Linked DNA regions of Homo sapiens: region 2 is linked to region 1. The links come from fine-mapping of genetic effects on gene expression. A gene starts in region 1. The other region holds a variant in brackets. All regions are shown on one strand. Distances are between the middles of the regions. Region 1 holds the start of GAS5 (growth arrest specific 5). Region 2 overlaps RABGAP1L (RAB GTPase activating protein 1 like).

Region 1 (2,918 bases):
ATGGTAGATTGGTGGTACACTGCTTAACCATTAACAGCAAACCACAACTACCCCAGATACATCAGACAGATAGTACATCTCTTCATGATTAAATCTGCTGAACTATGCAACCATCATAGTATCTGTTTTCACATTTTCTTCAGTATTAAACTTAGTATCAATATGAGAGCAAAATTCTCATTTGAAAAGAGGGGAGAGAAGCACTAACATAGATAATCATCATTGCTTTGGCTATTTTCTAATCCCTTAAAAGTGAGAAGTACAAAATAGAGGTGTCTCACCTGTGTGCCAATGGCTTGAGTTAGGCTTGCTCTTTAGGACCTGGGAAGAAACAACTTCATGTGAACTTAGGTGTACTCTCTATGTTCCCCAACTCACCATTTTGGGTGCCTCAGTTAAGATAATGGTGGTTAAGATCCTCATCATTCTAGCACTCAAGAGTAGCAAATAAACTGTCATCATTGTGGCACATCCAATGGCTTTAAACCTTTTTGAGAGGGAATTTTCAACTTACTTCAGTAGCTATTCTCATCCTTCCTTGGGGACACAACTAGAAAACAAAAAGATGCAAGCAAAACAGTGAGAATGAACCTCACAGCAGTCACGTTAAATATAAATGCTGTTAACATTAAAGCCTCAGAATAGAATTTCAGAAATCCCTTCTGTCCACTACTCTTAAAGCATCACAGGCTGAGACCACCTCTTAGATTTCATTCTTCCCACCATACTTTCCCCAATTCTTACCTGTCCATAAGGTGCTATCCAGAGCCACACTGCATCTGCACCCAGCACCATACCTAAAGAGATCAGGTACAGATTTTAATTCATTGTTCCACGGTTCTTTTTTTTAAAGAGTGTTCTTTAAAAAAACGGTTCGTCTTTTTAAACCAATGATGCAGGTAACATACCATTCATTATCTAGCGACAGGTAAAGGATACACTTAATGTTACAAAGAAGCACTGCACCCGCAGTTAAGAACCACCGATGGCGGCCGGGCGCGGTGGCTCACGGCTTGTAATCCCAGTATGTTGGGGGACCACGGCTGGTGGATCACCTGAGGTCAGGAGTTCAAGACCAGTCTCGCCAACATGGTGAAACCCCGTCTCTACTAAAAATATAAAAGCCTAGCATGGTGGCGCGCGCCTGTAGTCCCAGTTACTTGGGAGGCTGAGGCAGAACTGCTTAACTCGGGACGCGGAGGTTGCCATTAACCGATGTCGAGCCACTGCATTCCAGCCTGGGTGACAGAACGAGGCTCGGTCTCAAAAAAGAAAAAAGAAACACTAATGGAAATATTGGTGACACTGCGGAATGCAGGCACTTAAGCACGTGGACTACCACCGACAGCCTTTCATGAGAGCGGACGGCTGATGGAGGCTCGGGTCACGGCCCTTAACAATAGCTTACTCGGGTGACTCGGCATGTGCCACCATCAGAGCGGTTGGCATTCATCATTACTCTCAGATGTCCCTACCAACACAGGCTTCATCAGAGGCAGGGCACGAGAGCCGAGGCTTCTCCGCAGTTCTACTCTAACATAGTCGCAGCTTAGGTCACGCATGCACCATATGTGCAATCCCCCACCATCCTCAACTTGTAGGCCCTGCAAAGGCGCGCGACTGGCTTAGAAGTCCCAGTCAATTCAGGGTGACCTTAGCAGACAAAGGCTGGAGCGCCCCAAAACCCGCAACATTCGCAAAGATAAAACATACCTCACAGGAGTCGACTCCTACCTCGAAAAGACAGTATGGTGCCTGGGCTCCTGTATATAAGAGTTCTTTTGATGACGTCACGACGCACGCTCCCGGCAGCGTCCGCTTCGGCTCCTCCCCCTAACCTCCCTCAATCTTCCTCTCATCCAGTATCACCTTCTTCCCACCCCTTAAGTCCGCCCCTTTTCCCCGCCCTTCCTCGCCATTGTGGGCAGAGACATGACCGTCCACGTGATGCCGTGCTCCCGCCCTCCTCCCGACTGAGGAGGAAGAGCAGAGAGGGGAGGGGGCGCGAGGCAAGGAAAGCTCTGGGGATGGGGGAAGGGGGGGCGGTGTAAGGCTGAGTGATTTCCTTCCGGCACGTCGCCCGCTCCGTGGGAGGGGGTGGGGGATTTCACTTCCGGGACGGTGTTCCGGCCCATTCCGGCCCATTTCCACCCCCGGAGGTAGGTGCTGCTCCTTGACTGGACTCGGGCCCCACACCCCAGTGCCACTTCCCTGCACCGGGGTCACCTCGCCCGCCCTCCGCCGCAGCGCGCTCCTGGGGCGCTCAGCTACTTTCCTTCACCCCGCCTCCAGGCACCGGGCGACCTTCCACCCCCTTGGCCCCCGGCCGGGCTGATCTGCCGGACCCGCCCCCTCGCGGGGCCCCTCCCTCAGGACCCCGGGAAGGGCGGCCCCCTCCCCCACCGCAGCCGGGACACACCCAGATACGCACACCCACCTCCTGGCAGCTCCCCGCCCGCCGCCGCCTGGAGCCGGTCCCTGGGCGCCGCCCCCTTCCTAGTTCTCACCTGAGCGCTGGCTCCCCCGCCCGACGCCTTGTCCCCATCTTCTCCGAAGTTCCTCAGTGACATTTTGCCCTTTAGCCAGTTCCCCTCTCCCCAGGCTTCCTAACGCAGAAGAAAGCTGCTCAAGTGCTGGAGTGGCCAACCCCATGCCGTTCCCAATTCTCCCTTTTACAGCTCTCACCCCTCCAGTGCCGACGGTAGCGAAAGACTTTCCTCCAGGGGCTTCCTCACTGGGGAATTGCCGGAAAGAGCAAACAAAAAAGGCGCTGGTGTAGGCTCCAAAATAAACACATCTGAATTCATGATGGCATCGACAGAGGCTCTTATTGGATTAAAAGTTTCAAAACAAACAATAACGCTTTGGAAAAAGGTCAGATTGGCTAAAGTTGATTGTTGAAAACAGTGTATACACTT
Region 2 (2,918 bases), 630 kb after region 1:
CATTTGGTTTTCTGGTCCTTCTCTGTTGCATGAATTCTATTTCCCTCCTTTTATTGCCTGAGGTCTTTCTGGCACACTGATTCTCTGAGCCTGTTCTTATGCTCCTCTTTCCCTCCCACTCTTTGCCCTTTTGTCATTGGCAGCTTCTTACAGATTCCCTTGCTGTTTTTATTTTCTCTCTCTCAGTCCAACAAAGACTGCTTATAAAGAGCAGTGACCTTGTCATTTGAACAAAAGATTCCAAGAACCCTGTGTAGGTTGGTTATTGATTTGCTTAACTGAAGAAACTGATTAGCTACTTCATCTGTTGTTGAGTATCTCTATTAATGTCAGGGAGTTACATGTTACAGTATTAGTAGCTCTGACAGTGACTGTCTTCAAATTAATTTTACTGACTGATTTTATCTCAGAGTTCTTATCTATAGAGTGATCACTATAATACCTCCCAAAAGGAAAGATAAAATCCCTGAAAGTGCATTACCTTAGAGGCTTATTTTAAAACAAGTTTTATTTTTTTATTTCACATTTTTAAAGTTCCAAATTATGCTTGGAAAAGATAATATCATTTAGGCCTTTAAGTTTTTTTTAGCTTTGAATTCACTGATATGTATTTTTCATTTAGATTTGAAATATGATAATTGAGAAGAGTATATTCAACAAAAGAAGAGTGAAGTAATATATGAATGTATATGTAAACCTAACTACATATATTTATAGAAATATGCATATGCTTCCATAAATATTAACCATACGTGATTATGTTTGTAATATTCACATATTGCTTAGGAATGCTAATTAATTAAAAGGTCTTGTTGAATTCAAATTGGTTTTACAAGCTTCATTTTAATGATTTGTTATTATTACTGTGCGACTTTGAAAAACCAGGTCTATTGAACTTATGGATATGGGAAATACATATATTTAAACTGAAACAAAACGTTATTTTATTTTTATTTTTTATTTTTTATTTTTTTGAGAGAGTTTTGCTTTGTTGCCCAGGCTGGAGTGCAGTGGTATGCGATCTCGGCTCACTGAAACCTCTGCCTCCTGGGTTCAGATAATTCTCCTGCCTCAGCTTCCTGAGTAGGTGGGATTACAGGCGCATGCCACCACGCCCGGCTAAATTTTTTTTTTTTTTTTTTGTATTTTTAGTAAAGATGGGGTTTCACCCTATTGGCCAGGCTGGTCTTGAACTCGCGACCTCAAGTGACCTACCAACCTCGGCCTCCCAAAGTGCTAGGATTACAGGTGTGAGCCACCGCGCCTGGCCTGAAACAAAATTTTAATTGTGACTTTTTAGCATTACTTTCTCCTCAAAAAGCCAAGAATTGACTCTTTGATATGTTATCTAGTGAAATAAATTTGATATTATTTTCTTTGATTTCTGTAGAGAATTTTTGTTTATAGTTTAAATTCCTTTTGGATAACATTAGGAATTATTTTAATAAGTAGAGTAGGTTTTCTAATTATTAGTAAGTTGTAATTATTTACCCCCTCATTTTTTTTCAATCTTACAAAAGGCCAAAATATCACAATGAACATATCCAGTAGAACTGGGGGGAAAATTAAAAATGAGTTTCTTTATGCAAAATTGCTACCACATATAATGCATTATGATATGGGGAGTGGCTTACAGTTCATATATTCTTATAGTTTATATATTCTTGATTAAATCTTTTACAGAACTTAGAAATTTAAGTTAAAAACACTTAAATTAAAAAAA[T/A]TTAAGTTATTTTATGTGGATTAATTTTAAAATTAATAGCATAGTAGAAAGATGATTGTAATCTTCAAAGATTTTCAAATTAGTGTATACCGTTCATATGACTTAGAACATTTAGGAAAACTACAGGTATATTTTGGCATAGAAAATAACAAAATGTGGATTATTGTTTTTACTTTTTTGTTGGATTTCAATTTGATGTTTACAAGTATTGAGGTTATTTTATATAGTATTGGAAAGCTTGGATACCTAGAAACATGGATTCTTAGTGGTGGGTTTTGGCATCAAACACACATTGGCCTGAGTCAGAGCTTCATCCATTTCAAGCAATGTTACCTTGGGCTACCATTCCGAGCCTCAGTTTCCTTGGTTATGAAATGGGAGTGATGGCAATTATCTCAACGAATTATTGTGAAGATGAAATGATAAGATGTTTAGCGCAGTGCCTGGCACTTATTGAGGGTTGGTAAATGGTAGTTGTTGCTAATTGTAGCAATGACAACAGTTCTAGTGTTGTATAGTGTGAGAAAATAAAATCAAATCTGAAACATATATCACATCACTTTCATAGCTTTCTCTCTCTGTTTTCAATTTCTGTTCCTGGGACTCTCTTTTAAGTTCATATATTATAATGTTATTAATTTTAGACCCTAATAACTTCTAAACTGTTTAGAGTCATAGTTATGTAATCATAAACTTTTAGAGCTGAAGGGAATTTGGGGATCATTTAGTCCAAACCTCTTATTTTACAAGAAAGAAAATTATGTTTGGAGTAGTGAAGTGATTTACCCAGTATAAATTACTTGTGGCAGGCTTCTTCTTTTTTTTTTTTTTTTGAGATGGAGTTTTGCTCTTGTAGCCCAGGCTAGACTGCAATGATGCGATCTCAACTCACTGCAACCTCCGCCTCCCGGGTTCAAGCGATTCTCCTGCCTCAGCTTTCAGAGTAGCTGAGATTACAGGCGCACACCACTACGCCCAGCTAATTTTTGTATTTTTAGTAGAGACAGGGTTTTACCACATTGGCCAGGGTGGTCTCAAACTTCTGACCTCAGGTAATCCACCCTTCTCGGCCTCCCAAAGTGCTGGCATTACAGGTGTGAGCCACTGAGCTCAGCCGGTGGGTTTCTTATAAGTGGAACGCTGTTCATTGTACCACATACTGGCCCCCTCAATGTATCATTCATTTAAAGTGTGA

What was found.
Region 2: its variant is fine-mapped to the expression of GAS5 in whole blood (TOPMed, PIP above 0.99).

Annotation. Positions count from the first base shown.
Region 1 is chr1:173,866,247-173,869,164 of GRCh38, forward strand. It overlaps GAS5 (growth arrest specific 5), which reads right to left and starts at 1,743. Exons shown (of 12, transcript NR_002578.4): 1 at 1,714-1,743; 2 at 745-797; 3 at 515-550; 4 at 282-321. ZBTB37 (zinc finger and BTB domain containing 37) reads left to right here and starts at 2,134. Exons shown (of 5, transcript NM_001122770.3): 1 at 2,134-2,159; 2 at 2,679-2,874. SNORD76 (small nucleolar RNA, C/D box 76) reads right to left here and starts at 469; the gene lies at 389-469. It overlaps SNORD75 (small nucleolar RNA, C/D box 75), which reads right to left and starts at 692; the gene lies at 633-692. It also overlaps SNORD74, SNORA103 and SNORD77. RefSeq lists a silencer at 2,169-2,578 and an enhancer at 2,213-2,918.
Region 2 is chr1:174,497,541-174,500,458 of GRCh38, forward strand. The region is part of intron 13 of RABGAP1L (RAB GTPase activating protein 1 like); the gene reads left to right. Among named protein-coding and RNA genes, the nearest start is that of GPR52, 51 kb to the left of the region's middle. The variant T/A (reference allele first, on the strand shown) is at 1,724.